4 separate regions of the Homo sapiens genome follow, and regions 1, 3 and 4 are each linked to region 2. Evidence: fine-mapped expression QTL. A gene starts in region 2. Each other region holds a variant in brackets. All regions are shown on one strand. Distances are between the middles of the regions.

The links. PIP is the estimated chance that this variant, and not a neighbour inherited with it, causes the effect.
Region 1: its variant is fine-mapped to the expression of MKLN1 in whole blood (TOPMed, PIP above 0.99).
Region 3: its variant is fine-mapped to the expression of MKLN1 in thyroid (GTEx, PIP above 0.99).
Region 4: its variant is fine-mapped to the expression of MKLN1 in whole blood (TOPMed, PIP 0.98).

What each region holds. Positions count from the first base shown.
Region 1 is chr7:131,492,362-131,500,467 of GRCh38, reverse strand. MKLN1 (muskelin 1) reads right to left here. Exons shown (of 18, transcript NM_013255.5): 18 at 3,836-8,106. PODXL (podocalyxin like) reads left to right here. Exons shown (of 9, transcript NM_001018111.3): 9 at 1-197. Among named protein-coding and RNA genes, the nearest start is that of PODXL, 60 kb to the left of the region's middle. The variant G/A (reference allele first, on the strand shown) is at 4,309.
Region 2 is chr7:131,324,184-131,332,289 of GRCh38, reverse strand. MKLN1 (muskelin 1) reads right to left here and starts at 4,414. Exons shown (of 18, transcript NM_013255.5): 1 at 4,293-4,414. The coding sequence starts at 4,390. It overlaps MKLN1-AS (MKLN1 antisense RNA), which reads left to right and starts at 4,511. Exons shown (of 6, transcript NR_125364.1): 1 at 4,511-4,675; 2 at 5,355-5,484; 3 at 7,865-7,987. RefSeq lists enhancers at 3,496-4,072, 4,079-4,378, 4,073-4,649 and a silencer at 4,429-4,588.
Region 3 is chr7:131,281,433-131,289,538 of GRCh38, reverse strand. It overlaps a transcript of MKLN1 not described here. Among named protein-coding and RNA genes, the nearest start is that of MKLN1-AS, 42 kb to the left of the region's middle. The variant G/A (reference allele first, on the strand shown) is at 4,527.
Region 4 is chr7:130,881,003-130,889,108 of GRCh38, reverse strand. LINC-PINT (long intergenic non-protein coding RNA, p53 induced transcript) reads left to right here. Exons shown (of 8, transcript NR_170176.1): 7 at 4,713-4,792; 8 at 6,373-8,106. Among named protein-coding and RNA genes, the nearest start is that of MIR29B1, 7.5 kb to the right of the region's middle. RefSeq lists an enhancer at 1,433-2,632. The variant T/C (reference allele first, on the strand shown) is at 4,585.

The DNA.
Region 1 (8,106 bases), 170 kb before region 2:
TTTTGTCTGCAGTGAATGTTCAACAGTTTGCCCAGGAACTGGGGGATCATATATGTCTTAGTGGACAGGGGTCTGAAGTACACTGGAATTTACTGAGAAACTTGTTTGTAAAAACTATAGTTAATAATTATTGCATTTTCTTACAAAAATATATTTTGGAAAATTGTATACTGTCAATTAAAGTGTTTTTGTGTAAACTGGTTCAAGCTCTAGTAGTTTCCTCGGACTTCTTAAAGCCTTCACTTGTGTATGAGGCTCATCGCCAAAGTGCCTGAGAATGTCGGCTCACACCCGTAGCACAGGAGCCTCCGTGCTGAGTTACACTTGTCCAACTCTGCAGGCAAAGAAATTAGGCAAGAGAAGGAGAGAAACCGGAAGAAAAAAAAAGGGGGATCCTAAAGGTGGTTATGAGTCTTTATGTTACTCAAGCTATCCTAGTGACTCTAAAGAACCTCACTTTCCCCTAAGATGACGTTGTATGTTTCGCTGTCTTCCTTCCCTCTACTTCTGCCTCAGATACATTGTGAATCACCACTATCAGAAATCCCCAAGAGGGCTGCTGAACATTGATCAGGTATGAAAACACTGGCAAAGAGACTATATATATACATATATATGTGTGTGTGTGTGTGTGTGTGTGTGTGTGTATGTATATATATATATATATATATATATATATATATATATGTAAAAACAAAGCTCTGTTCTGGCCCTGTTTCTGCCATAAAAGGATCTGTTTACTGCCACAAGAGGCTTCTGCCTATCCCTCCTCCAGGTCTGCAGTGAAGATAGATAGCGGTTTAAGGAAGGAATCACTGGAGATGATTCTTTCTTCATCTCCTAGTGTGGTATTATCCACAGCTGCATGCTTCTTCATCGGAAGGGGTAAACTTCATCATTCCAAACTTGCAGAAGGGAAACTGTCAGGTAGAACTGGTCCATAATCTTAGTTGCTAGACAACAATCTTGTCTACTTGCCTAGCATCTTACCATTTACAAACCATTTTATAGGAAACCTATAGGTTTACAAACCTATCTTATAGGAATTGTCCCCACTAGGGAAATTAGATGCAGGAGTTAAGTATTCTCTTTGAGATTGATCACACAACCATTTAAATGGCAGCATGGGCCTTGATTCTCTTTTTGCTCTTTAGTCCTACACTCTTTTCTCAGTATCACGTTAATGCCAGAGTTCCAACAACAGCAAAATACATTTCTAGAATGCAACTACTGTTACAACATGATTTTCCTTCCATGAAAGTTGTTGTGAAAAGCAGTTAAACCCTGAAGAGAGGTCTAGAGTTGGGCCCGGGTAATTTTGAGGTTAGCTTCGAGAGGGTGCCAAGGATACAGAAAGGAGTCCAAGTACAAGGAACTCACACAGGACCCTGGCCATGGTCGAGGTGCACTGTTCTAAGAGTGACCCACAGCTTATTGTGGGCCACAAGTTAGACCTAAGATCCCATTCTCTTTCTGAGTAGGTCATTCACCCTGATCCCTGCCTGCCAACCAAGACACACGCTCAGTTGTCAATTTAAATGTGTTATGCTCATTTGTCACTCAGAACCTTCCCTATAAGCTCCCTCCCAAATCACAGATTTCTTCTGTACCACAAGGGAAAAAAGTAAATAAAGAATAGAACTGGCTACATAATTAACACTAGTGATAAACACTGAGATATCTATTGCTTTCAAAGACCTTGGTGGGGAATGGTGGCTTATGCCTTTAATCCCAGCACTTTAGGAGGTCAAAGTGGGAGGATAGCTTGAGCTCAGGAATTCGAGGCCAGCCTGGGCAACACAGCCAGATCCCATCTTTACATTTTTTTTTTTTAAATTAGCCAGTTTTGCTGGCACATGCCTGTAGTCCTAGCTACTCAGGATGCTAAGGCAGGATCACTTGAGCCCAGGAGTTGGCGGCTGCAGTAAGCTATGATCACACCACTACACTCCAGCCTGCATGACACAGTGAGACCCTGTCCTAAAAAGAAAATCAATAGGATCCTAGCCAACAAGATCTGCTGCCAGTATTTACTTCACAGAAGAAATGAGGCAGAGAAGTTGTGCAATATTATGCAGAAGTCATTGGTCATCAGGAAATGAAAGCCAGGATTCCCAATTCCTCCTGGACTCTCCATTCTATGTCCCAAGTTTAGAGGGCAGCTGTACAATGCTGCTATGTACATCGCCAAGGGTCCTAACCACCTCTCGGGGTTTGCCAACCATTAAAACTTACGAACGTAGTGCTAGGCAGGCTACTTCTACGTAGTTTCTCCTTATTACAGTTTCTCCTATATTAAGAATCTCTCTGGCAAGGATATGATTGACGGCTGCTGCTTTTGCTGGGTGAAAGCCCACAGGAAAAAAGTCCCCGTAAGACAATAGTGAAGCTGTAGAGTAAGGATGGTGGCATCATCCTCTGCTGCCCCAACTGCCCTATGCCCCAGAAAGCCCAAGTCTCCAGTCCCCTCTTCCTTTTCTCTAAGAATGTAAAAGGCAAAGGAAGATGTAGCATACGTGGTGCTAAAGAAGGAATGTCATCAACCAGGATTTTGACTTACGCCAGAACTGTACAAGCCTCAGATGGTCTTTCCAGTCATATTAATACCTTCAGAATCTGAACAGTTAGTGATAAACCAATGTTGCCTTCATTTACAGGGAAAATAACCCCCCCCACGCCCCCCCCCTCCCCGTTTCTAGGGACTCTGCAGTCGTCATTTATATGAGAAGTTACAGGAGCATGGGCACACAGCCATTTCCCTATTAGATGCTCGGTCATCTTCCTTTGGCGGCAGAAGCTCCTAACGCAGCAACTTCCAAGCTCTGTAGTACAGTCTCCACATGTGCTTGACCTGGGAGCAGCTGGCTCTCATCTGTGTTTAGGGCCAAGCCTTCTTTACTTACTGCTGTCTTCCCACCAGAAGGTAGTGACAAATATATCAAGGGTAGTGTCCTGCATTTTGATCCTTTTGAGTTAATTCTCTGGAGGACTGACCAAGGAAAGGCCGATTCCTTACCTTATCACTGCACCTCATGCTTTCCTGTTTTGAGAACACAAAGAAACGTTACTTAAGGGCCACACTCAAAGGACACCCTAGAAATGAAAGCTCTGCAGTAAGGTTTGGATTATTCAATTTGTAAACTGAGAAAGCATGATCCCTGTTTGGAATAAAATCAGCTGACAATTCACTCCAGAATGCATGATCACAAAGCCACGATGTAAAGCAGACCAGGAGGTGGAAAGGGCAGAGAGGGGATCTCATTACTAAGAGTCCCACCACTCGGCCCCAGTGACCCAGGACTTTTATCTGGCATATTTCTCAGCTTAGTTTTTTCAAGATTTGGCCCATAAAGTGTCTTTCCCCTTTAATGGGGACAGGGATCCAGAATTTTCCCAAACTGCAACACTTCTAGGTTCTCTCCCTTTACTATCTTTTCTACAGTGAATTTTCCATTTCAGTTCAGTCTTTCCTTCTAGTTCCAGCCTGTACAAGCATATCCCCTTTAAAGAGGAACATAAGTCCAAGTGGACAAAGCAAATAAAATAAGGGTGGTCATTAACAGTAGATAGAAGAACATTTCATGAAATAATTTACCAGTGGTCTTTAAATAAGTGGAAGCCTCCCCGCAGAAACTTTGTGAGCATGGCCGGTACTTGTTCATCTGAGCACCGTCTCAAAGGAAAACACCCAAAGGCCCTTCGAAAGCGTATCACTTTCCTTTTGGAAGCCTAAATAAAACTCACCTTTCTGGGGGAAAAAACACAACTGTAAAGTACAAAAACATTTTAAAAGTTCACTTCAAAAGTAGTTTGAGCAAATACAAGAGATATCTTGTAGCATCCATATATAACATTTTATTAAGAAAATGAACAAAATACATTCTTTCTCCATATGTACATTACATACAACATAATTCTACAATTGCCATTTTTAGCAGATCACTCATTTATTTATTCACAAAGTAGAATTAACACATTTACCAAAGCTGGGATCTGAAAATTATTTGTACTATAAGAAAAAAAAAATCCTAAAAAGTCCATACAGATTGGATAAAAGATAAGCCAGAGATCATGAGGGGAATGGGGAAGATTGCAGAACACGACAGAGCCCAACAATGATTTGAAACAATTGATGTCAGAAGAGATCTGATACCCATAAAGCACTTCTGTTTAAAAGCTCCAACCAGCTCATGCCAGCTTTCCAGAGTCCCATGATTTCCATTTAAGACCATGTGGATACTTTAGGATACGGCCCTGACCCCACATTGCCACAGAAGAGGGGGTAAGAGTAGAACCAAACAAGTTAGC[G/A]GTTTTCTCCACACATTGAGTCTCATCTGAAATACTACTGAGGTGCAAAATGTGTGAATCTCAGCTAATGTGCACAGAAATACAATTTTTTTTGAGAGACATTTGCTTAAACGTGGTAAAGAACTCTTGTTTTATGGACTCCTTGCTTCATGTTCATTTTGTCTGTTTTTCTTTTGGCTTTTGACAATAGCTCATCCTTTTTGAGTGTGAGTTTAATTATGGCCATATTAAAAAGTCCATCATAAACAAAGACTCCTCCTCATGGTATGAATATGCTCCATATGCCCATAATGGTGCATAACGGACTTAGAAATTCCAATGAGTCTTAGGGTTGAAATTTCCAATGACCTGAGCAAGGCAGCTCCCTATAGCTTCTGGATAACATTTTACACCCAGAGTTCAGGCTTAAACAGACCTATCAACACAATTATTTTCGGATTGTCTGTCTAGAAAACGGCAATGCTCAAAGGAATATAAATAAGGGTGGGGGGACATATGCTTCCAGCCTGGTCCTTTCTCCATGTGGTAAAAAACAATGGAATGGCTGTGTTAATTTTTTTTTTAATCTTTTCTGGCCTTTACTATGTTTGGTAATGGAAATAAGTCAGGGAAAACAAAATGAACAGGTCTCATCACTTAATTAATACTGGTTTTTCTTCTTTATACTTAGTAATTTCCTAGTTTTTTAAATGATAAACCTATTTTGACAATCACTAACATCAATACATTTTATCGTAAGTCCCATATAAGATATTTAACATTCTCCAACTTTCGGCTCAGCTGGTTACAGCACCACATTTCCAGTCCAGGAGATGTTTTCACAAACAGAAGGAGCGATTCACAGCATTAATAAGCAGACTTGGAAAGACAGATTTTATTGGCTATGGAGGAAGTTGTATCTTTCTTCTCAATCTAATTTTCAGTCCAATTTTGGTTTTGAGAATCTATCTCTATCAGAGGGGATCTTAATTTCTGACTACTGAGTACTTCCAATTTATAAAAGAGCTGACTTTTAAAAAATTCTAACATCTTTCCCAAACTGTTTAGAAATATGCCATATTTGAAAGACGGAATACTGTTTGTTCCCAAGACCAACACAAGAAAAGGAGGTCCTCATCTTCGCTTTCCTGTACTCTTCCTCTGAGGCTAATAACTCAACTGTACATAGCTTTTGGAGTGGGAGCAAGATAAGAATCTCTTTAAAAAGAGCATTTTAAAAATGTATGTGTATGTGTATGTATGTATATTTATAAAGTATGTACGCATAAAGGAATCTGTTCACAGGAAAATGTTACATTATTTTCAACTCTAAATTATGCAGAAGACTATACAAAGTAGTTAATTAATACTATACTATCTACTTTCTTTTCAAAAGACATTTCACACAAATCCAAAAAGTAAGCCGGCTTAAAGAATAAGACAATCATAACACCTCTTGCCCAGGCTAATTGTAATGCTTAGGAAAGGAAGTCCACTTTTATTTTTCTGAACGGATGATTTGTAAGTAAGGAAGAAAATTGTTTACAATTGATCAGTCACCAAAATAATTTTTTTTTCTGGGAAAGGAAAAAAAATCCCAAGAAAAAGATCAGTACATGACTCTTTAATAAATTTATCTTCCCCCACGGAAGACTACTCCTAAGTAACCTTTTGGACTTTGATATCTTATTAAATTTGGGAGTGAGTTGATAATTACTTGGTATTATTTATAACTTGGTATTATTTGAGGCAACACACTACAGCTGTCACTTGCAAACACCTGATGGCATGGCTCTAATGGTGTAGGATCCTCTCCTTTGTTGTAACTGAATTTATAAAGATTTATAAAGCTCTGCCAGTTGCAATGGGATTGGGATTTATTCTACACGCCTCCTCTAATTTAATCAATCACTTTACAGATGTGGAGGAAACCTAAATAAAAAACCAAAATTATGAAATACTTCTAATGCCAAACCCAGATCTCATTATTGCTTGGCAAAGCAGAATTAACAGAGACCCTTGGGATGACATATAATTAATTTAAGGCAAGGAAACTAGTATCAGTTCAATTCTGTGTTACAAGTTATACATGAAATGACAATTTTCCTCCTATGTTAAAGGGCTAGAAAATAAAACCAACCAAATGACATGAGCTAAACTGTAACAAAGGCTTTCTTGAGATTTGTTAACAACGGAGAAATAAAGCTCAAAATTGGCTTTTTGAGTGGCTCCTTATTCATGCACACAGGCTTGTTCAGTATATCACACAGTGTTTCTTCTTCCTGCCAATTAATTTGGCATTCATTAAGTAATGAATGAAACTGAAGAATGATGATCTCCTCAGGCTTTGTGTGGCAGACAGCTCAGATATCTGAGCTAACTGCTGTGACTGCTAGCATCCCAGATGGTACAGAGCTATGTTGCAGCAAGAGCTTAAACTCAGTGAATAAGCAAGGGAGCCCCCAAACTGCATGTTGAAATGTTTTATGGCTGGTTTTCCTGCTGGATCCTTAACAAGGAACTGGTTGTATGTAAGAAGCTGCTCACCTAGTTTAAGATCTAGAGCCCATTAACACTGGATTTTCTGTTTTAAGATCTCAAACAGTTATTTGGAAGAAGGGAAATGCTACTTCCCAAGAAATGCTACTTCCCAAAGACTATTCAGAATTACTGAATATTCTAGAAGCATGAGCTTTGAGGCCTTTTGGTAGTCTTCTTCCCAGCATCTCATTAACAAAATTATTTTAGGGTTAGAAATGAAGAAATTTATTTTTCCTTTCGATTTGTGGACCTCTAAAATCCATAAGCAAAAAGCTCCTATTTTTCCTTCTCTAACATACCCTCATTGTCTTCTCTAGCTCGTTCCTGAAGTTTAATACTTCCAAGTCAAAATGCCTTAGATAAGCAAAATAGGACTTTGCACACAAATGTTTAATAGTTCACTGAGGCTGTCTGAAAAGCAGATAAAAAGGAAGACATTATTTTATAATTAAAAGTGATACCTTAGAACTGGTCCAATTCCCTACCAAACATTTCCCCTTTTTTGCCATTGATCCTACAGCTTTCAGACAACATTCATGTTAAATTCTGTTTTCCAGCAAGCTCAGCAGTGTTTGGGGATAGACAGCACATTGCAAATCTTATTTCCAAATAATGATTCTAATTAAGAAGATAAACTAGGACTACCCTTTCATTTTTGTGTTTTTAAGCTGTTAAGTGGGATCCAGTTCACAATATAAAACTTTAGCCAAAAAGACAGTGATAATTTCCCCGATGGCATTTCTCTCTGCACCACTAGAGAAACTAATTTACTATAACCTCTAATGACTCCTTAGGTTAAGGGCTACAGAAGCTACCGTCAGATGATTTCATTGGCTATGACTGGCCTAAGAGTTAGTCATTTGGAATTGGAGCTAAATTCACATTCTTTTTTTTTTTTTTTTTTTGAGACAGGGTCTTGCTCTGTTGCCCAGGCTGGAGTGCAGTGTCGCAATCATAGCTCACTGCACCCCAAACTCCTGGGTTCAAGTGATCCTCCCACCTCAGCCTCCCAAGTAGCTGGGACTACAGGCACATACCACCACACCTGGCTAAAAAACAAAAATATTTTAAGTAGAGATGGAGTCTTCCTGTGTTGCCCAGGCTGGTCTGAAATTCCTGGGCTCAAGCAATCTTCCCGTGTCAGCCTCCCAAAGGTCTGGGATTACAGGCGTGAGTCACTATGCCCAGCCTAAATTCACATTCTTGAGGGGAAGAGACATATATAAGGCTGCATTATTTTTATTTAAGGAAAAAAAAAGAAAAAGAAAAGCAATCATT
Region 2 (8,106 bases):
TATTTATATATTTTTTTTCTTTTGTAGAGATGGGGTATGTTTCCCAGGCTGGTCTCAAACTCCTGGTCTCAAGTGATGGTCCTGCCTCAGCCTCCCAAAGTGCTAGGATTACAGGCATGAGCCACCGTGCCTAGCCTATATTCATTTTTAAATGTGAAATTTTAAAATTAGTTTTGAAAAGAGTTGAAATAAATTCACCTTCTATTCTAGTTGTCAAATCATAACACTTGTACTCTGAACCATGAATCAATCACATGTTGACACAAGGTACTATTTTAAGTACTATTTGATTTTAAGTAATAAGACTAACAGGAAAAAGGTAAACACACTTAAAAATCTATCAGATTTTATCATCTAAATTATCTAAGTCATTCAATAATATGTAAACAAGATAAGAATCATTCTATACCAATGAAATTACCTAATATGTAAAAAATACTTTCAAAGTTTCTCCCAGTTCTCATATGAGTATACTAAAATCTTAAACATCAAGATAAAATCTATTTTTCCCTCTCTTGCTGTTCTAACCTTAGAGCGCTTATCTGTAATCTCAATTAGACATATACAATAGCCATGTATAATAATGAACAGCTTTCGTAACAGAAGTCAAAAGGCCCAATATGAGAACCTTATCACCTACATTTTCTTCCTCCTCATCATTATTATTATTGCAGATGGGGTCTCATTGTGTTGCCCATGCTGGTCTCAAACTCCTGGGCACAAGTGATCCTCCTGCCTTGGCCTCCCAAAGTGCAGGGATTACAGGTGTGAGCCACCCTGCCCTGCCCCTCTTACATTTTCAACTCTTAGACCTGGGCAAGTTAACTTACCTCCCTAAATCTCACTTTTCCTAGCTCTAAAATAGAATAATAATATTTATCTCATAGGGTTTTTGTGAAGACTATTATATCAAAGAACACATGCTAAATGCTCAGTACAGTGCCTGAAGAATAGAAAGTACTCAATAAGTGGTGACTGTTATTAAAGTCACAATGCAATAGTTTTTAAGTCAGAAAACCTGGCAAGCCTCTGGAAAACTATATGACCCTGGGCAAGCTACTTACCCTGTATGGACCTCAGTTTCATCCTCCACAAAACATATATAAAATACCTATCTTACAGGTATGTACCAAGAATTAAACAAAACTGTATACAAAAAGCATCTTGCATATATTAGGTGCTCACTAAATTGTAACTAGCATCATTATTAGATACAAAAATAAACATTTGAGTACAGGGATTAGCAGTTTACAAAATATTTTTATGTATAAGAGTATATGTAATTTTATGAATTATTTAAATAAGTGTATTTAATTATTAAATTAGGTGTAAATTTCAGAAAAAAAGTAAAATACAGGCAATCTCTAAGCACACAAAAATAAAAGGCCTTTTTTTAGTCTCAAAGTAAAAATGTGTTCCCTATAACTGAATCTGCTTTAACATTTTTAAAGTCCAAATAAATTAAAAAGAGTTGAAAGGGGAAATATTTGTTTTTTCTGCCTCTGGAAGAAGGGGAAAAGAATTCTAAGTCCTTAGAAAGAAAATAGAGATAAAATTGTTCAATTTTTTTTAATGACTTCACATTTCTTTACACAACTAAAATGTAAGTGCCTTTAATACAAGAGCTCTTTTAAAGTTCTGATTTCCTGTACTATATATACCTTTGTGCAGAAGCAGTAAAACACTATAGTTAAAGACCACAGACTGTGGAGCCTGACTACCTTGATTCAAATTCTGGTTCCATCTAGCTGTGTGACCTTAGGCAAGTTTAAACTTCTCCCTACCTGCTTCCAACATCTGGCAAACGGAGATTCCTCTTGGGATTGCGGTAAGGATTAAATGAGTTGATACACTTAAAAATGTTCATAAGAGAGCCTAGCAAATGGACGGCACATCATAAATGTTTACCATTTTTGTTACTGATTTATTACTGCCACCTCGAAATGCTTAGATCTATGCCAACAAATATTTGCCACTTTGTGGACAATTTCAACAAATGTCTTTAACCTAAAATGAGACCTGTTTAAGAAGTACCTTAATATGGTTTCCACTGCCAGTAAAGATACAACAATTGCTGCTAGAGGGGATTTTAGGGCAAAGGTAAGTAAAGTCAACCCCTTTCCTACATCTTCTGTCACACAGAGAAGTAATATCCTTGCTTGCTTATAGAAGTTCAGAGCCAAGAGTTTTATAATTTAGGCATGGCACACACCAACCCAGCAGACACAATATTCTCCAACTCCAGCTCCATAATACTCAACTATACTCCTTCAAAGAAAAAAGCTTAGATTACTCTTCTAATACTTTACTTTAAATACAAATTATACTGCATTTGTCAATAGAATGTCATAAGGATTAAACAAGATATAGTAAGTGGAAGTGTATGAAAGTTACGTATGTATTAAATACTATTTTATGTATGTACTTGAGAAAATTGCAGCAATGTATTTCTCCAATCTCAAATTGTTGCTTTCTAACTCCAAAACTAGTGTTCTGCCCACTGCAAACCAGGGGCCAGAGTAACAAGACACAAAAGATTAAAGTTGCCATCCCACTAAATCATTTCCTGCTTGAAATGTACTTTCTTAAAATGTCTATACAACAGATAACGCGGATGGTACTTGTGTTATCCAAGCCTCAGGCCTACATCAAAAATTTAAGGAGTGACGTCCTGGAAATACGCTAATTCAAGACCAGAAAAATGTCTCTACAGTTAGATCAAACAATGCCACACCAATTCCCAACTGTCCATAATCCTAGCCTGGGTATAGAAAAAAGCTGAATAACTTCAGATCCAAGAACAAGATAGCCCAGAATATCAGAGGTCAAGTACATAGGGCCACATTTCAACTCCAACTACATGGCTGGACTGTTTATCTGGCTCACTCTCAAATTCAAAGTTGGGTTTCAGCATCAATCAGGGATATGGCCATGAATAGGCTACGCAGGCCAGATCAAACCACAGGTCACTTGGCACCCTTCATTGGGCCAGATCCTACTGAATGCCAACCCTTGACCTGGTGAATAAAATGGGAGGCTGGCAGTCATGACAGATTCTTCCAGTTGCAGCTCCATTTTGAGATTCTTCATTGATATAACCAGTGAAATCAAATTTGGATAAATGTGAAGAATTTCTCAAATACAGATGGAAAACTTACTTGAGTATGCTTCACAGATCTAGTCACTTTTTTGTTTAGTAAAATACTCAGTAAAATATATTATTCATTAATTTGTTTCGTTCATAAAATCGTTTCGGTCCTGTGAGATGGTTAGAGGGACAACTAGCACTTTTCTTCAGGATCTGCACAGATCTTAACCCTTTACTAAGCCAGTTCCTCCACTAGCATGTAAAATTGGAGTTAGATCTGCTCCTCCTTTCAAAGATAAGCCAAAGATAAATAAGATACTATGTAAGAGTATTTTCAGCATTTCAGAAGGAATTTGCTAGAGAAAAAAACACCACCAACAAAAACCTAACAATGCAACTGAATTTTTTTAACACCTAAATCAGGGATCAAGACAAAGCCGGTGTTGAAAATCAAATTCATTAAAGCCAGATGTTTCTATGTTTGAGTTTCCGGACTGGGAAACGTGTCTGTGTCCATACAAACCCATCTTCTAATGAGCCGTAATACTGAAATTCTTCGGTAACGTCCCTCCTTCCCACTCCCTATCTTTTTCAGAACTTCCAGGCATTAAAGACAACGTCTGCCAATCCTACAAGTTCTCCCCGCCTGCTAGGATTCAGATGGATTCCACAACTTTTCAGCCTTCCGTGACTTTTAACACTACTCTAGAGCTAATCACTTTTAATGACCCCACTCTGGAATAGACACTCCTCGGCTTTACACTTTGTCCCGGCAGCAATCGACTGAACTGTCCCCCGACGCCGACCACCTCGGACGACCTCAGACATTCGGGGTAGTTTGCCCGCGGGCAGGGCCCCGCCAACTCCGATTCCTGCCCCAGAGCCGTCCGCCCCCCAAGCCCTCCTCAACCTCAACCCCCAAATCCCAAGCGCAGAACCGCTGGGCTTCCGGTTCTCCTGTGCGCGCCCCGGATCCGCCACACACCTCGCCCCTTCTCCCTGGGCTCGCTCTCCGGACCCTAACCCCTTCCCGAGCGAGGCCGAGCAACGCTCTCAGCAGCTGAACTAAGACTCCGGAGGCCGCACGTCCCCCTCAGCAGGCCCCGCCTGGGCCTCTCGGCTCGGCTGCCCTCCATTGCACCCCTGGCCCAACCGTGCTGACGCGGAAGGGTGGGGCAGCACGAGCTCAAGGCCCGGCACTTACTCGGGAAGGTAGGTGGAGGAAAAGGAGCTCCACTTGTGTAGCGCGTAGGGGAGAAGCCGGCACTCGGGCGCCGCAGCGACAGCTCCGCCAGCCGCCATCTTGTCAGCACCGTAGCGGCCGCCACCGACCGCTGGCAGCGAACGGGAGGAGGGGAGGGGGCGTGGCCTGCTCTTAAAGGGGCCGCCGCCCTCCCCGGCCGCCCGCGCTCCCCGCCCCGCATCGTTACCCGAGCCCAGCGCCGGGCCAATGTCCTATCTCAGGGTTTCCCACGTCGCTCGCTCCTTGACGGCTGACCGACACTGGGTCTGAGGTGTAAGCGCTTTCCAGGCCCTTCCCTGGGGCTTGGAGGGGAATGGCGCAAAGGACTTTTCTTACAAGCAGAGGTAAGGAAAAGCCGAGATGATTACGAACAGAAACACGTTGTAGTTATGGAGCAGGAAGGGAAAATAAGAAGACCAAGTTGGAAAAGGGACGCCTGTGCGCTTTTGGAAGCCACCGCCCTCGCCAGTTTATAAGTCCTTTACGGAAACAACACTGAAGGGAGCTGGAGGGCAGTAGCTAATGTGCTGTCCTCCTGGAGTGGTCCTGGTTTTAAATGTCTTGTCCCCGCCTTCCAGAGTCAGATGGAGACAGGAAAAGGAAATGGTCCCGTGTCCTCCTACCCTGTTTGGTTTGCAGTCTGTGATGCCCTTCATTGTAAACATTTCTTGTGAGCCGCATCCTACTAATCTTGTGGCATTGGTTTGCTCGGGAATGACGTTCACCCACAGACCTGAAAAGTCCTTACAGAGTTGGGAAGCTGCGTGTCATCATTTTTTCAGTTGGCAAATCTGCCCACTTTGAACTGACATAATTGTAGCCTAAAAGTTCAGAGAGAGAGTAGTTCAGGAAAAAGACTATTCCTTCTTCTTAGAGGGAACAGCAGCCCTGAAAACTATGTGGACATCATACCAGCTTCTTACAACAAAAGGTGCACTTGGTCTAAATTATCTGGCAGCTCTAGATAACGTTCTCATCAAGTACCTGTTTGTTGTAGTTATGCATATTTATTCCTTGGCTTAGCCACTGCAGTTACCAAAGAGTATGTCGCTTATTGTCTAAGAGGTTGGACTCCTGAAAGCCTGGACAGTGTCATCATCTTCACCTGAAGAGTGGAAAAATTCAAGCAAAGAGTTTCTCAGGAAATGACCAAGTGAGTCAAAACACCTCAATAATTGTATTCTCTTCCCGTTGTAATCATTAACCTGCCGAAATTCCCTCCAGTCCTTTCCTGACTTCCTGTTTCTATAGATGGAAATTTTAATAGTGGGCTCTACTAGGATATCAAATCAAAAAAGCCAGATAGAAAGGCCAGGCCCGGCACGGTGGCTCACACCTGTAATCCCAGCACGTTGGGAGGCTGAGGTGGGTGGATCACCTGAGGTCAGGAGTTCGAAACCAGCGTGGCCAACATGGTGAAACCCCGTCTCTACTAAAAATACAAAAGTTAGCTGCGTGTGGTGACATACACCTATAATCTCAGCTACTTGGGAGGCCGAGGCACAAGAATCACTTGAACCCAGGAGGCAGAGGTTGCAGTGAGCCAAGATCACACCACTGCACTCCAGCCTGGGCAACAGAGTGAAATTCTGTCTCAGAAAAACAAATAAAATACAATAAAATAAAAAATTACATGTGCTTTCTGTGTTGCAGCAGGTTGGAAAAGCATGTGTTCCTTAAGGGAATGCTGTAACTGTAGTGACTTGGGTCGGGAGCTGCCAGAGACAGTGGGAAAGGGCCAGAGAATGTTAGCCCCAGAGATGATATAGTGGTTATCTTTGAAGAAAATAGACACTTTAAAGGGGAGGAATTAACTCACTCCAATTCCTTTGGGCCCCAGATTTTATAATTCCACTTCTTACCTTAATGTAAGTCAAGTCCTTGTTCTTTTCCAGACATAGTTCCTGAGCAATCTTTTTTAAAAACACATGTTAATTAGTTCTTCTTAAGCTTAAATCCTTTTGGTGACTTTCAATACCCTTCTAAACTGTTTAACAGAGGCCCTTCATAACCTGCCTTGATTTTTCTCTCCAGCTTCCTCACCACCACCCCCCCCCCACTTTTCTCCTTTGCGCTTTTGACATCTGCCCACTAACTAGCACACTGAATTTGTTCCCATAGAGTCCTTGTTCTCTCTAGCCTCCGGAGCTTGCTCTAAGCCAGGCATGGAATATTCTTTCCCATTCTTTACCTGGCTAACTCCAGCTCATCCTGTAGACTGTTTGGTCCTGGAAATTTTTTTGGTTTTTTTTTTTTGAGACAGAATCTCACTCTGACTCTGTCACCCAGGATGGAGTGCAGTCACATGAACATGACTCACTGCAGCCTTGACCTCCTGGGTTTAAAGGATCATGCTGCCTCAGCCTCCCATGTAGGTGGGACCACAGGCAGACATCACCACACCAAGCTACTTTTTAAATTTTTTTGTAGACACAGGGTTTCACTCTGTTGCCCAGGCTGGTCTTGAACTCCTGGGCTCAAGCGATCCTCCTGCCTCGGCCTGGCCTCCCAAAGTGCTGGGATTACAGGTATGAGCCACTGCGTCTGGCCGAAAATCTTTCTTCAACACCTGCTCTGGGATTAGGTGACAGTTTTCTTCATTTTTTTTTTCCTATGCAAGCTAACACAGGATAGGTAACATTTTTTACATTTCTCTTAGCACTCTAAGTTTCCCTCTTTATCTTAGCACACATCACAATATATTTTAATTTTCTCTTTTTTCCCCTTTCTTTCTCTCTAAATGATAGCTCCCATGAAGATAAGAGTCATACATATCTTGTTCACAGTTGTATCCTCAGTCCTGTTGATGTGTCTAGCAAATAAAGATGTTCAGTAAATATTTATCAAAGAGTGAATGAATAATGCTAAAAGAGAACTTTAATTAGAGACTTCTGAGTTGCAAAGGAAAAAAAAAATGCCAGCACTTCTCAGACTACAAACGTGTATCCCTGAGGTATAATTGCTACTCAGAAGGTAAAGACCCAGGATAGCATGGCTTTCCTGCATCACAAATTTTATAAATGGTAAAATAATTTAAAGCATTCCTATGTTAACATACAGACAGCTATATTATGATACCAAGACGAAAATTTGTTTAAATGTTAAGAAAAGAACTTTATCTGAGGAATGCAAATCCTTTTAAATTATGAGGCCCAGAGAGGCATTAAAGTGAAACAGCAATCCTGTCCTTCTCCCCCACTTTTGAACTGTGTATTTGTCTCTTGAAACTGCTTACTATTGCCACAGAAGCTAAACATTAACCTACTAATTAATGCTGCACCAGACATTATAACCCTCATCCTATAGTTTCATAATGTATAGCCAATCAGTAGCTTGATTTATTTTAATGTAAATTCTTGGTAAATAACTCAGGCACTGCCTCATCTTTCCCTTTAAAAATCCACTTGTAACTGCTGCTACTCAGAGTGTATATTCAAGGCAACCTGAATCTATGTTCCCAGGTTGCAGTCATCAAGCTTGGCCCAAATAAACTCCCAACTTATATTAATTTTGCCTCCGCTTCTTCCTTTTAGGTAAAACATCTGGAGTAAGTCAGCAGGATTCACAGTGACTCCCCCCAACCAGCTGGTGGTGTTTCTCTCTGAAAGCAGCGCTTGGTACCAGTGTGAACTCTCTTCCTTCAGAAGTCTCATCAGGTGTTTCAGATGAGTTCTCCGGAATTTGGACCTCCTACTCTTGGGTTGAAGGTCTAGACTTTATTTGGGCTGTTTTTCAAACCCTTTCTTTAAGTGTGAGGGCTTCGGTCTCTGTCTTT
Region 3 (8,106 bases), 43 kb after region 2:
AAGTGGGTACTAGATCCTGTAGCTTATTAAAGTCCATTGGTAAGGATTTGCGGTTGGGGTTGTTTTTTCATTTTTTGTAGAGATGAGGTCTCGCTATGTTGGCCAGGCTGGTCTCAAACTCCTGGCCTCAAGGGATCCTCCCGCCTTGGTCTCCCAAAGTGCTGGGACCACAGGCGTGAGCCACCACACCTGGCTACTTGTAGGTTTTAATAACCATCCTTCCCCACTTCCTGCAAGTGTCATCATGTCTGCCACACCCATAAACCCCCTTCTAGGTTTCTAATAGACAGGACACCAAATTACGTAACAATTTATTCTGCCATTCCAAACAAAGCCATTTAGGCCAGGGGTGGGGACACCTGATCTAGGGCATCAGACCTATGCTCATGAGATGGTTTGTCAAGAAGGCTTTGATAGCCGGGCATGATGGACATGCCTGTAATACCAGCACTTTGGGAGGCTGAGGTGGAAGGATTGCCTGAGCCCAGGAGTTCAAGACTAGCCTGGGCAACACAGTGAGACCCCCATTTACTTCTACTTTAAAAAAATAATTTTTTTTTTTAAAAGAAGGCTCTGCCTAACCACCTGCACTTGATGGTGAACAGCCAAACTAGGCAGATTCTTTTGTTGAGTTGAATATGAAATACAAAGAGAGAGTCAGCAGTTAGAAATGGGCAGAAACTAAAAGATACACAGAGAGAAGGAAGAAAGCTGAGGTCATGTGGCAGCAAAAAGCATGCAGCAATAGAAGCTGTGAGATGAGAAAAGAATAGAAAGTACTGAACAGCAAGGGCAGTGGAGAGTCACAATACTAGCAGATAATTAGAGTGCAAAGCAACAGATACTGACTACTGAAGGGCCCACAAGATAACCCAGTTGCTAGGGCGGCACTGTGTGCTGAATCACCTTCCCACTCCTCGTTGCCAGAGTGTGGCAGAGAAGGACATGGGGCTTGTATTAGTCTTAAGCTTAGACTGAGGTAACCTGAGTATATCTCTCCGTTCTGAAAATTAAATTTTTGCTTCTTGGAATCTCTATCACTCAAGATCATGGCACAAAACTGAAGGCACATTGCGCTGGGATTTTGAAAATCATTTGATGAAATTGATATTTACAAGGATGTAGGGAGGGTGGTGGGAACTTAAGCGGATACTGAGGCACCCAAGGTCGAGTAGCAGTAGAAGTCCAGGCCTGAAGAGAAACAGTTTATCAGAGTCCAGAAAGAGCTAGAACTGTGAAGGGGCATACCTAATGCCAAACCCATGGCGCTAAAGCAGGGAGGAAAGGAGAAGAAATATCTCAACCTCTTTTGCCTCCTACCCTCTGATACTTGCTGATGCCTGCCATTGGACAAACCCAACAGTAAGCCAGAGGGCACTGGCTCCCAGGGGACGAAATCTGTGGGGTAACATCCTTGTCGGGAACAGAGTGTGGCAGAGAAGGACATGGGGCTTGTATTAATCCACTGTCACACTGCTATAATTTAAAGATACTACTGGAACCTGGGCAATTTATAAAGGAAAGAGGTTTAATTGACTCACCGTTCCACATGGCTGGGGAGGCCTCAGGAAACTTACAATCATGGCAGAAGGCAAAGGGGAAACAAGGACCTTCTTCACATGGCGTCAGGAGAGAGAAAAGTAAGAAGCAAAGGGGGAAGAGCCCCTTATAAAACCATCAGATCTCATGAGAACTCACTCACTATCACGAGAACAGCATGGGGGGAACCTCCCCCATGATCCAATCACCTCCCACTGGTCTTTCCCTAAACATGTGGGGATTATGGGGATTAAAATTCAAGATGAGATTTGGGTGGGGACACAAAGCCTAACCATATCAGGGCTATAATGGGTTGAATGATATTCTCCTCCCCCTCCCCCGCCAACAAAACATGCCCACAGCCGAATCTCTGGAACCTGGGAATATTACATTACATGGCAAAATATGTGATTAAGTTCAGGAGGACCTTATCCTGAGAGGAGGACCTTATCCTAGATCACTGTGGTAGGCCCTAAATGCAATCACATGTATCCTTATAAGAGAGAAGCAGAAACTTTAAGAGATAAAAGGAGGAGGCAATGTGACCTCAGAGGAGTGGCCACAAGCCAAGGAAGGCCTGGGGCCCCCAGACGCTGGAAGAAGCAAGGAGAAGATTCTCCCCCAGAGCTTTCAGGAGTGTGGCCTTGCCAACACTTGATTTCAGACTTCTGTCCTCCGGAACTGTGAGAAAATAAAATTCTGTTGTTTTAACCTATCCAGTTTGTAGTAATTTGTTACGGCAGTCACAGAAAACCAGGACAGGAGCCAGATGGAGAATAACCAGCACAAAACCTGTTCATCTCAGATGGGACAGGAGGATATACCTGATCACTTTAGCTGGACATTCTTTTGCCTGCCTTTTATATTCCCTTTGGTACTTTTTGTTTTGTTTTGAGACAGGGTTTCATTTCACTCTGTTACCCAGATTGGAGTGCAATGGCACGATTGTGGCTCACTGCAGCCTCAATCTTTAGGGCTCAATCGATCCTCCCATCTCAGCCTCCCAAGAAGCTGGGCCACAGGTGTGCACCACTACTTCCAGCTAATTTTTTTAAAAGTATATATGGGGCCTTGTTATGTTTCCCAGGCTGGTCTCAAACTCCTGGCCTCAAGCCATCCACCCATCTTGGCCTTCCAAAGTGCTGGGATTACAGGTGTGAGCCACCGTGCCTGGCCCATTGGGGCTCCTTTTGGGACCACTCATATGCCTCAAACTATATGCTCCTGAGTTGTAGTTCTTTTGTTATATAAATATTGTTTTATCCAAATAAGATTATGACATTCTTATTCGAAACAAGAACCTTGTCTTGTACATCTTTGTAGCCCATAAAAATCTTAGCACAGTACTTTAAACAGAGTGGACATTCTGTAATTGGTAAATGAGAAAGAAACCTTCCATTTGTCCATCTGTAAATGGAAAATAACAATTTCTACTGACTTGCCTCTCAGAGATAATGATGGCAGTGCTTCCTGGAAACAATTTTTTGTACCTGTAACAGAATGATATATCTGAAACACCCATTCCTACTGAGGCAATTCCTTGGGGGAGGAAAAAAAAACAAAGCTACATTTACTTTTAGCATGTCCTCCATTCCACGTGCAGATGAAACTGCTTGCAGATCACCCCACAAAGGAAAAGGCAGGGGATAATTAAGAAAATATAAGAGCTGAGGACTGATATCTTCTTAGGAACTTTGATTCATTCAATAAACATTTATCAAAGAACTACTATGTTAAAATATAGTCCATTGGCCAGGCGCAGTGGCTCACACCTGTAATCCCAGCACTTTGAGAGGCCAAGGCAGACAGATCACTTGAGATCAGGAGTTCGAGACCAGCCTGGCCAACATGGTGAAACCCTGTCTCTACTAAAAATACAAAATTAGTCCGGCGTGATAACGCATGCCTGTAATCCCAGCTCCTTGGGAGGTGGAGGCACGAGAATCGCTTGAACCCGGGAGACGAAGGTTGCAGTGAGACGGCGCCACTGCACTCCAGCCTGGGCGACAGAGTGAAACTGTGTCTCAAAAAAAAAAAAAAAAGTCCATAGATGCTGAGGAAACACACGCAGAGAATAAGGCATGATCCCAAGTCAGTAATTGTCACGCAATATGATGAATGGTTTTTATAAGAGCAAAATGCTATGGGGCCAGAAAAAAGGGAATGACTAACTATTGATGGGAGTTTCACCAAAAAAACTCACAATCAAGCTGGTCTCTTAAGACTGCATCAGGCAGAGGTGAAGTCAAGGGCATTCCAGGACCAAGAGAAACAGCTTTGCCTGAGCTGTTGCCAAGCAAACCACACCCTCAGCTCAGCCCTATTGTATCTACAGAGGCCTATTTTTATTCTTTATCCTCATCGCTACTTTTTAAGAGAAGAAAAGAATGCTGACTTCTTCCCTAATTTGCATCCATGTATTTTATATGCCAAAGAAAGGTGATTGTCAGGAGGGAAAATAGAAGTTGACTTTCGGCAAGTCCAATTACGACAGGTCCTCACATCCATCTGATAATAAGTTAACATGGAAACGCTTACCTTTGCTGAGCTTCTACCTCATTTCGGAAAATTGGGTTAGGCTATCCTGTGAATGCAGTACCAGGGGGAAAGTGGACAAGGTATGAGCGCATCCCGTGTCTCATTGCCCCACACCAGGAGGTTCATCTTTGGCAAACACTCCTTGAATGGGAATTATGGCTGAGGCCCTTTTTCCTCCCCTAGGCTGACCTTCACATCACTCCTCAGGGAACAACTCTGCCTAGGGCACCGCCCAGCTTCCCTCCCAGGCCAGCCCTGCTAGGCCTCTGAGACCAGAGCCGTGCTGCTTATGAGTGGAAGAAAGGAGAAAAAACTCTTAGGACAGCAGCCAGGAGAGAATGAAAGACTGGCCAAACCCACCAAGGAGCAAACGGTTCCCCATCCTCACCCTGCAGCTTCTGCTGGAAAAGCGGGGAGGCTGGGGAACCGGAATCTCAGCCTCAGAGTAC[G/A]CATCACTTATCCTTGTTTTCTCAAGAAGCCTCTACCTTCCAGGCCCTGCCAGGAAGCTGGCAGCATTTTCCTGAAGCAGTAATAACAAGGACAGAGCGTTCTAGCCTGCTGGAGCCTGCTGGCTGGTCACTCTTTCCACTGCCTTTTGTTTTCATGCATCATTCCCCTCACTTGCTTCTCAGATTCCTCAGGGCTTTGAAAAAGCCACAAATGCTCCACACAGTGACACCACCCAGCGGGCTGGCAGACATAGCTGACAGGCACCTTGCCCTAAGCGACCGCACGTATGCAAGCCCTGACAGCTGATACCCAGCCACACACCTGGTGAGAGGGAAGGCAGCACTTAGAAAGGGCCCACCCTATTCACGTAGCTGGCAAAGGTAGGGCTTTAGATCAACTACAGCCCAGTGCACTGGTAAATCACAGACCGCTTTTTTATTCAAAGTGTATCTGTATGTTGGACAGTGGTACTTCCCCACCCTTTCCTCAAACATCTAAATCCAGCCAACATAGATGCTACCAACAGAGCACCAGAGTAACCTCAGCGTGACAATCCACATATCAATATATTAGATCATATACACATGCATACTTGGAGCAGACTTAACTTTATTTGTGTTTTAGAACCACCTGTAGCCTATTTCAAACCACACTCCAGAGTGAACCTATCAGAATCTATGAAAATAGGGCTTAGATATGTGTATTTTTAAAAAACTTGACAGCGTTGGTTAGAATGTGGGACAAGACAAATTCTTGTATATCATTGATGAGATATATAACAATTGGTTCAGCTGCTGTGGACAGTAAGCTGGAAGGCAATCTAGTCAAGTCGGAAGTGCGCATATCCTATTCCCTAGCAATTTTTGTTCTAGATATATTCCCTAGAACTCTCACACATGTGTTCAAGGAGACGTACACCAGGGCATGATTTACATCATGATTTGGAATAGCAAAAAACTGGCCATAACAAATATCCACCCACAGGAGAATAGATTCTAGAACATTTACACAATGGAGCACTACATTGCAGTATTATATAATATAATGTTATGTTATATAGAATGGATTAGCTCTACAAGTACCACAGATAAATCTCCAAATCACAATGTTGAGAAAAAAAGCTACAGAAAAAAATATGTACACTATTTACATACAGGTTTAAACATGCAAAACTTGCCTATTGTGTAGTAAAACTATAAAAACATGTGGGAAGGACACTCACAGTCTTCAACAGATTGGTTACCTCTGGAGAGAGTTGAAATGAAAGGGCCTTCTCGGCCGGGCACAATGGCACACGCCTGTTATCCCAGCATTTTTGGGAGGCCAAGATGCGCAGACAGCTTCAGCCCAGGAGTTCTAGACCAGCCTGAGCAACATCATGAAACCCTGTTTCTACAAAAAATACAAAAATTAGCCAGCTGTGGTGGTGCATGCCTGTAGTCCCAGCTACTCGGGAGGCTGAGGTGGGAGGATCACCTGAGCCCAGGAGGTCAAGGCTGCAGTGAGCTGTGAGTGCACCAGTGTACTCCAGCCTGTTTTGGGCAACAGAGTGAGATGCTGTCTCAAAAAAAAAAAAAAAGAGAAGAAAGAAAGCAGTAAAGAGAGAGAGAGGAAGGAAGGAAGGAAGGAAGGAAGGAAGGAAGGAAGGAAGGAAGGAAGGAAGGAGGGGAAGGGAAGGGAAGGAGGGAGGGAGGGAGGGAGGGAGGGAAGGGCCTTCTCTTGTAACTAGAAGGTTTTATCATGGCAAGCCGTTATTATTTATTAAATCTGGATAATGAGTCCATATCCCACAGGTAACTCTGAGGGTCATGGCCATCGACAGCGGAAGGATCTTTTGAGATTCTTAGATTCTCAGTTACAGAAAATAAAAGTTTGATCTGTATAATGAGCCATCCCCATAAACATAAATGACACTGAAGAGCCCTCTCAGTAACGTATGCAGATTGAGATGCTGTTCATGAACGGAGGAGCTGTTGCACAGGCCCAATTCCCCTCCCTTACTAGGTGCCCGTGTGACCTGCTGGCCTTGTGAGCATCCTAAACAGAGTCAGAGCTGCAGTGGAATGAAGATGAGGATTGGTCCACGTGTGGAAATCATGACTATAGTCATATCCAGAAATTTCCAAACCTGGCTGAAAATCAGATAAAACTTTTAATGCAGTTGTCCATGCCCCACCATCTGAGAATATGATACAATAGGTCTGACATGAGACTCTGGAATCTGTATATTTAAAAGGCTTGCCAAGAGATTCTGATGATCGCCAGGTTTGAGAAATGATAACCAACCATGGTTATATTCTATTAATGTTTTCAAAGAAGATGGGTAGGAAGAGAAAAGGGAGAAAAGGAAATAAGAAAATTAAAGAAGGAAGGGGAGAAAGAAGGAAGGGAAGGAGGTGAGCCTTCGAACCCAGCTCAGATCCCTCCTCCTCTATTTCTCCTAGACCTCTATAGCCTCCACGTCCCTCCTCATCCCCTGAACTTGCTAGATCTCTAATCATCTGGTAACATTCATTTGGCAATTATGTACTTCCCTGTATGTTGCTGTCAAGGGCTACTGTTTAATCAATAAGTTTATGTCTTACTTTTTGAATTAGGCTATAAGCTTCTTCAGGACAAAGACCATGTTTTCTTCATCTTTCTTTTTTTTTTTTTTTTTTTTGAGACGGAGTTTCACTCTTGTTGCCCAGGCTGGAGTGCAATGGCACTATCTCGGCTCACCACAACCTCCGCCTCCCGGGTTCAAGCGATTCTCCTGCCTCAGCCTCCCAAGTAGCTGGGATTACAGGCATGCGCCACCATGCCCAGCTAATTTTGTATTTTTAGTAGAGATGAAGTTTCTCCATGTTGGTCAGGCTGGTCTCAAACTCCCAAACTCAGGTAATCCACCCGCCTTGGCCTCCCAAAGTGCTGGGATTACAGGCATGAGCCACCATGCCCAGCCCATCTTTTTATTTCTAGTGTCTAACATGATGCCTCCCACAGAGTAAGCAGTAAAGCACCATGATAAGAGTATAAGATAAAACAGGCTCAGAAATGTGGCAGTGGCTGGGCATGGTGGCTGTAATCCCAGCACTCTGGGAGGCTGAGGTGGGAGGACGCTTGAGGCCAGGAGTTCAAGGCCAGCCTGGGCAACATAGTGAGACCCCCATCTTTGCAAAAAATTTAGAAATTAGCTGAGTGTGCATGTGTAGTCCTAGCCACTCACAAGACTGAGATGGGATGATTGCTGAGCTCACAAGTTGGAGGTTGCAGTGAGCTATGATCATGCCACTGCGCTCCACCCTGGGTGACAGAGCAAGACTGTAAACAAAAAAAAAAAGAAAAGAAATATGGCAGGATACAAGATCAATAAACAAAAATCAATTGTATTTCTATACACTAGCAATGAATAATCCTGAAAAATGAAATCCAATGCAATCTCCATCAAAATCCCAACTTTTTTTTTATTTTACAGAAATTGACAAGCTGATCATGCTATTCACATGGAAATACAACCCAAAATAGCCAAAACAATCTTGAAGAGGAAGAACAAAGTTGGAAGAGGCATAGTTCCTGATTTCAAAACCTACCAGAAAA
Region 4 (8,106 bases), 440 kb after region 2:
GATTTTTTTTCTTCTCTGCTTTATATTTGTTTAAAAAAGCATGATCCAGCAAATGCATCAAATTAAAGCTGTGGGTACAGTTCTCCTAACAGAAAATCACACAGTAAGCTGGGACAATGGAACAGAAAGCAGTGGGTATTGTTTTCTTCTTAAGATTTTTATATTCACATTGGATGAGAATGTCTCCTAACCCTCCCCTTGCTGTTGTTCTTGGAATGGGTACCTTATTCATGGCCTCCTTACATAGAGGGAGCAGATTCAGGACAGAGGCTCTGCATGCTCCTGGGTCCCTCCTAAGCGAGCACTCCCCTCCACTGCTCCTCCTGTTCGGCATGCTAGATTTTCTGTGCACTTGCAGTCATACGGAAACTGGCTTCCTTCTTAGCTGTGCGTGTGAAAGTCACCCCAGTGTTTCACCTGCAGTGTGAGTGTAATTTGGGGTCCCATGACATGATCATCTTCCTTTTGATTTCTAAAGCTAGGGTCAGGGAAGGGGACTCGTTTTGAGCCAAAGGGCATTTTAAGGGCATCATTTCATATGTTCACTGTCTGCAGCCAACACTGCACTCTAGACAAATGGGTACCTTTATGTCCCATTTATTAAGACATCCTGCAAAAGGGGCTCCTGGCCCCTGTGGGAAGCTTGAAAGGAACAGACCATATCCTGTTTCTTTTTGCTCATACCTCTGTGGTGAGATCTTATTCTGACCCCATAGTCTGGTGCCATACCTGTGGGTCCCTGTATCTCCTAGAATTCCCCCTATGCTAGTGTTTAGCCCGTGTAATGACAGTTATCTGTCCACAGGGCTGTATCCCCCGCCAGCTTGTAAACTCCATGAAGACCGGCCCTGCGTCTCACTCACTCCTGTCCACAGCAGTGCCTCCCACATGTTAGGTCTTAACAAACATCTGTTTCTTCTACTCTTCATAAAATCCACGCTTCTTCTCACCCCCCCGTCATCCCTGATCCCAGCTAACTTTGACCCTGTGTGCGGGGGCGGGGGATCTACATGTGGGCTCCACCCCCGCACGCCTGCTGCCCTGTCATCTCTGATCCCTGGCGGTGGGATGTCTACCATGGCTCTGCCCAATCCCCCACTGTCTTCACCCCTGCCACATCTGGCATGATTTTACCGTCCCCTTCCTAGAGTTCTCCCTTTCTCCCCTGCCCAGGCTGCACCCCTGGAGAGCCCAGCTCAGGCCCCTGGCCCCTATGAAGCCTCTCCTGAATAATCCATCAGCCTGCCCTGAGCTCATCCAGTCTCCAATGACGATTGTGCTCTCCACCAGCAGGACACACCGGAGCACTTTCTCTGTCCCTGAGAATTGGACTCCATTCCACAGTTAGGTCCTGGGTCACATACAGACATTTCACATCCCCTCCTCAGTATTCCCCAGCAGCGTGCAGCACAGTGCGGGCTTCTAGGAGGCAGTCGGTGGATATTTACCCATGATTTTAAGAGGTCTGTCTTGACCAGGAATGTTGAGAAGTGACCTGTGTCTCTGCAGCATTGCTGCTAGTTAGTCCCTCGTGGAAGAAGTGGCATGTCCCTCCTGTGTCTGGCTCACGGGGACCGGCGCCTCCTGTGTTTGCCCCCGCCATGCCCTGTGGTTTCCTTTGACACCCTCTGTCATTGTCTATTTTTATGTTTTAAACTTCAGTGGGATTTACCTCTCGTTTGCTCCCATATCCTCCTGGTAAATTGTAAACTTGGTGAATCAATGATGAGTAATCAGTAGGCAGAAATGGTTGGAATTTCCTGGTCCCAGTTTCAGATCATATCTGTCTTTCCCCAGACTCCTAACTTCCTGTTGGGACATCCCTTGGTCTGGCCTTTCCCTCCAGAGAAGCCCCCAGACCCACCCGCAGCCTTGATTTACTGATGCCTAATCTTATTTTAGTCTTTCACACCAGTTTTTAACAACTCGACTGTATAGATCTTCTGGAAATTTTACCCAAAAATGTTAGATGTGCCATCCCCTCACAGGGGAAAGTGGTGGGGTGGTGGGGGTTAATGTGTTGAAAATCTATGTATCTTGTATTTTATTTGAGTCAGCTGTGTTTTCACAACAACTCTGAGAGTTAACATCATTTCTACTTTATAAATTAAAAAAACAAAACAAAAACAAAAAACTAAAGCCCCAAAAGGATTGAATAGCTTGCCAAGGCTGTGTAACAAGTGAAATTTGAATCCGGGTCTGTATGATCCCAAAGCTTAAGCTGCCCGTCTTTCTATTCCCAGTTCAAACGTGCCTTGAAATGGGAGCTCACTTGATAGTACTTGGCTTTTAAAAGGCTACGTACATGTAAGTACCTTCACTCAAATATGCTGGGGCTCAGTAGGAGAAGCAAAGAGAAGGAAAAGGTATTGATTGATCGATTTGATTCTAAGCAGAGATTGACAGAGATAAGCTTCTAAGACCTTTCAGGCCCCAGAGTGTGACTGTTGAGCACCTAAGAAGACCTCACTTGACCCGTGACTTCCCGCCAGAGCCTTGGGAAGCCCATGAGTGCAGCGTGCTCGCCGGCTGGGCTGGAACTTGCTGCTCTTCTCTGCAGTGGCAGGCTGGCTTCTGCCCCTAGACTGGAACTGCCAAGGGCTGCTATAGAAGGGACAAACTTCCAGTGCTCACTGAGGAGCCAGGGGTATCCTGGGAAGCTGAAAATGCATTTGTCAAGCTCAGGTCTTCACAATTGAGAAACCCCATCACTAACCCGTACGGTTTTCTTGACCAAAACTTTCAGTGCTCTGTTTTTCCCATCTGTAAATAATGTTCATACATCTAAATCCTAGGAGGTTGCAGGGACAGTGGCTTAGAAAGTCACCACATTCTCTAAAGGAGTGACAGAGAGGATGAAAGAAGCATGCTCTATAATTAGGTTTTATTACATGCTTTTTAAGGTTAATTGAAGGACTTCCCAGCAGCTTCCCTAGCCACTTTTTCAAATACTGAAAGCTTCCAGAAAGCAGCAGACAGGTGTTCCTCACAATCTGACACAGACTTCAGTTACTGTTGAAAAGTGAAAGAGGGCTGGGCGCGGTGGCTCACACCTATAATCCCAACACTTTGGGAGGCCGAGGTGGGCGGATCACCTGAGGTCAGGAGGTCAAGACCAGCGTGGCCAACATGGCAAAACCCCATCTCTACTAAAAATACAAAAATTAGCTGGGTGTAGTGGCACACGCCTAAAACTCCAGCTACTTGGGAGGCTGAGGCATGAGAAAAAATCGCTCGAACCCAGGAGGCGGAGGTTACAATGAGTCAAGATCATGCCACTGCACTCCAGCCTGGGTGACAGAGTGAGACTATCTCACAAAAAAAAAAAAAAAAAGAAAAAAATGAAAGAGCTCCTGTCTGACGTTGGTTTTCTATACCCATTTTTATAATCAGACAATTTTGGAAACATGCTATTATGATAGTGTTTAAATATTCCAGAATTCTGTGTGTTCGGTAGCTTCACGTTGGTTTGATTGTTGTTTTACCCCACTGCCTCTTCCTTCCCATCTGTACTTCTCAGCTTGATTTTTTAGATGTATTTTCTGTTGTAGGACAGTATCAAATGGCTTTTTCTGACCATTTATTTTACTGGCCGAGCTCCTCTTGGATTTTAATCTCAACTCTCAAGAATCTTCCCAACATAATCTGTTCCTGTTGTGATATCATCTTTCTTGAGAGCTTCCCAGTCACTGAAGAGCATGTTCAGTAGCACCTGGCTTAAAGAGTCCACCTGCGAATCACAAATCATTGTCTTCACCATTCAGCTCCGACCCACACATCTGGGCAACATCATCCCCACTGGCCAGTAAGCACGGGGAATGCTCTGTGGCCTCAGCTGTGTTCTGGTTCCTCGGTGGAGCTGTAATCATTAACTTAGAAATTGCAATTGGTGGTAACTTAACAGAGCTTTCTTCATCAGACTGCTGAGTCATGCAGCCTCTTGCTGGGTAAAATGTGTCTTGAGATGTAATCCCCTATAAGGACACCCCCTTGGAGCCACTGTGAAGGCACTCCCAGCTTCCCTAGCAGGTCGCATCAGGGGGACGACTGAAGGATTTACTTGAACAATCAGTTTTCAGAAATGAAGACCCTACGACCTTGGCTTCCTCTCTTGTGATGCAGCTGAAAGATGCATTTCGTCTGTAAAGTTAGACCAGGTAGGAGAGAATGTGAGGTGGTTTCCATTCTTCTCAGTTGCCCTCCACCTGATTCTGAAGCCGTCACAGACCGTCCTTGCAGACCGGCGCTCCCCTCCACAAACCTTCTGCAGCCTGTACTGCTACAGCACGAGGCTGCAGAATCAGTTGTGAAAATAGAAGCCTTCTACCGTCTCCTGTGCGGGATCCTTGCCTGCCTTTCTTCTGTGATGGGATCTATAGGCTTAGACTGTGTTTTATTTCCTAAGACACCTTGCTGAGCAAACCTTGCTGCTCTGCCTCGTGTCAGCGGTTTCCTTAGCAACGGCCACACCTCACGTTTTCTCCCGCACAGAGCACCAGCATGAGGGGGCATGTGTTGCTCACTGTACAGGAACTTTCCCAACCTGTGTGTCTTAAGCAGGAAAGAGAAGGTGCTTTCTATTTC[T/C]TGTTTTTAAAAATGCATCTGTTGGTGACACTGGTGGAGAAACATGTTTACGAGAAAACAACTGACTTTTTCTTCTGCTGTTACTCCAGGAGATTTCCTAGGAGCTCATACTGTCATTTAAATTCCAGGTGCAGGTCTTCTGAACAAATGCCTCCTGAGGATTTCTGTGCCTGGAAAATATCTGTTAACAGACTGCTTTTACACCTACGTAAGTAGAGGCTTCTGCTTATAAGTCAACCTCAAGGGAGTTTTATTTTGTCCCTGGATGATTCCTCAGTACATTTTTCTTTTTCTTTTTTGAGGTAGGGTTTTGCTCTGTTGCCCAGGCTGGAGTACAGTGGTGTGATCACAACTCACTGCGGCCTCAACCTCCCAGGCTCAAGCGATCCTCCCACCTCAGCCTCCCAAGTAGCTGGGACCACAGGCGTGTACCACCCACGCCTGGCTAGTTTTTTAAAATTTCTTTTGTAGAGGCAGAGTCTCCCTGTGTTGCCCTGGTTTCAAACTTGGGCCAAGTGATTCTCTGCCCCAGCCTCTCAAAGTGCTGGGATTACAGGTGTGAGCCACCGTGCCTGACAAGCCTGATATGTTTTTTTAAATGATCATTAGTATTTGATCTCTACTCTTTTTCTCTCAACCACCCAACTCCCGGTTTACGGTCAGGAAGAATCTATAACATGAACTCCTGCTTAAAAACAAGGGTATAGATCCCATATTCAGGTCTTAGACTGGGAAGAAGAGAAGGCAGTCAAAAATATTAAATATATGAATTTCAGTAAATTCAGTTGGGGATGCCATTTCAGCTTTGCAGTCAGTTACTCCAGAATATGTCAATGTATGGCAAAGCATGTGACAGCAGGATCTCTGCACCCTCTCCATTTACCAGCTGTGGTGGATCTCTTAGCCACATCTCTGTTTATAATGTGCTTATTGAAAACTAATGTATTACTTTTATTATCATAGCTACCATTTACTGAATATTTACATTGTGCTAACACTGGTTCAGATGGCTTCATCATATTTACCTGATTTAATCCTCACAACAACCTTATGTGCTAGGTCCAGTTATTACCATCTTTTTTTTTTTTTGAGACGGAGTCTCACTCTGTCGCCAGGCTGGAGTGCAGTGGCGCGATTTCGTCTCACTGCTGCAACCTCCGCCTCCCAGGTTCAAGTGATTCTCCTGCCTCAGCCTCCCAGGTAGCTGGGACTACAGGCACATGCCACCACGCCCAGCTAATTTTTGTATTTTTATAGAGACGAGACTTCACCATGTTGGCCAGGATGATCTCAATCTCTTGACCTCGTGATCCGCCCATCACAGCCTCCAAAAGTGCTGGGATTACAGGCGTGAGCCACCGCACCCGGCCTATTACCCTCATTTTACAGATGAGGAGACTGAGGCACAGAGAGTTAAAGTGATTTGTGCAGGGTTGTGTGAGGAGCTGGTGGCAGAGCTTGGCATTCTGGCTCTGGAGTCTGCATTTGGCCATCTCACCGTACAGTGTCATAGAAACAGGAAACTCGAGAAGATAAACTGCCAGGCTGTATTTTGGAGTCAGTATTTTAACACTGTCACCATCTCAAGCATGATCTGTGGGACTCATCACTGTGCTCTTTGACTTGAACTTCTTTAAGGTTAGTGGGAAAATGAAGCTTTAGAGAAGATGGGACTGGCCTAAGGTCACACTGCATGTCAGAAGTGTGGTGGAGGGTCCAGGTCTTCTGACCATTCAGTGCAAGCCAAATTGTGCTAATTTCCAATTTTTCTCCCTTTCTCTTGGTGAGCTATTTGGTGCTACTTCTACTCCTCATGACCAAAGCTGGCTTTCATGGTTTACTCATGTACTTACTGATGAAACCCTGAGACTTGGGGCCAGTGACTGTTCAGAGGTCCATGTGAAGATGCGCTGAATGGTATAAAGGACAGAGCAGTAAAGAGTGCTGGCTGAATGCCTGGGCTGGCAATCAGGCATGTTGGAGTTTGAGTCCCAGTCTGCCACTCCAGCTCTGTGACCAAGAGGAAGTGAAGTCATGTACCCTTTCTAAGTCTCTAGCCCCTCTTCTGAAAGACGAAGATGCCACCACCAACCATGTTAGTGGTTGTGAATGCCAAGAAAGTCCATGTGAAGCACATAGCATAGTGTCTGCCATGCGTTAAGTGTTCCAAAAATGGAAGCTATGACTATTTCACAGAGTACACTTCCCATCACTTTTCAGTTCATTTTGGCCTTCTCCCTCAAAAGCACTCCAGTGTTCTGATCCAGCTGATAAAACACCAAACATTCACATAGTGCTTTAAAAGTGACCCACTGTTTTTACAGACTGCATTACATATGACCCTAACAACCACTGCAATATAGAAATTCGCATCTCCATTCTCCAGATCAGGATACCGAAGCTCAGAAAAATTAAATGATTTGCCCAGGATCACATAGTTAGTAAGCAGCCCAGCCAGATCCTGTGTTAACTTGTTCATCCGCTTCCTATAAGAAAACATCCATTCAAGGCACATGGGGCAACAAAGAAGGACTTAGAGCTGTGTGGCCCCTCGTCAGGGCAGTACCAGTTGCACCCATAGTCCGGCCTGAATACTCAGCTTAGGACTATTGTGTCCAATGTCCCAAACATTTTGAAGCTACATCTTAAAGAAGTGTCCTGCTCAGATGCAGTTCTCCTTGTGAAATCCGCAGGCCCCAAGGAAAGTGACTTTAATCCAGTTTGCTCATGCAAGAACAGACTGGCATTTCACATCCAGGAAAACAATGGATTTGTACTGTTCAGCTTTTGCCATGCAAGGAGTTCCTGGTGTGGTTTATTAATTTACATCTCAGGCTCCAGCTTCACTATCAATCAGATTTGGAAGAAAAAAGTTACAAAGAAAGGCAGCTTGCTGAGAAACAGCGGAAGCATGACGGTACAGACTGGGTTTTGAAATGGAGACACATTCTCATGGCTTGTGGGCTGAGAGACACTGAGAAAGGATTTTGTTCTTGAAAGATGATTGTTTTAATGCTGGAGATGGAGAGTTTTGACAATTTTAAGTGCATGTTCTGTGTGTAAGAAAGAGTCATTACGTTTTTTTTTTCTTTCAGATGTTGCCATGCCTTAAAATTGCTGATGATTAAAATAGAACATCCTGAGTTACAGAAATTCAGCCCTAGTGTATCCTGGCCTAAAAATACAGAACAATCAAGTTGATTGTTGGAAATGAGAGGCTAGGCAGGGTTGGAAACATGCTAATGTTTACTGAGTGAAATCTTTCCTTCTCAGTAGAGTTGCCCTTGCAGCTGAAAGTCACTGAAAGACTCAACAAAATAAGCAGATCCCACTTGTCTCACTCTGTTCTCCTATGCATGCCCTGGAAAGAGAATGAATGAGCCCTTTTTAATTTATCAACTGGTTTTCTTCCATCTCTTTACTAGTGAGCCATGGGGGTTTTTTGCCGTTAACTGGGTAGCCAGTCTCTTCATGGAGACTTATTTTCAGGAAACTAGCCTCTTGCTTTATGTGAAAACAAGG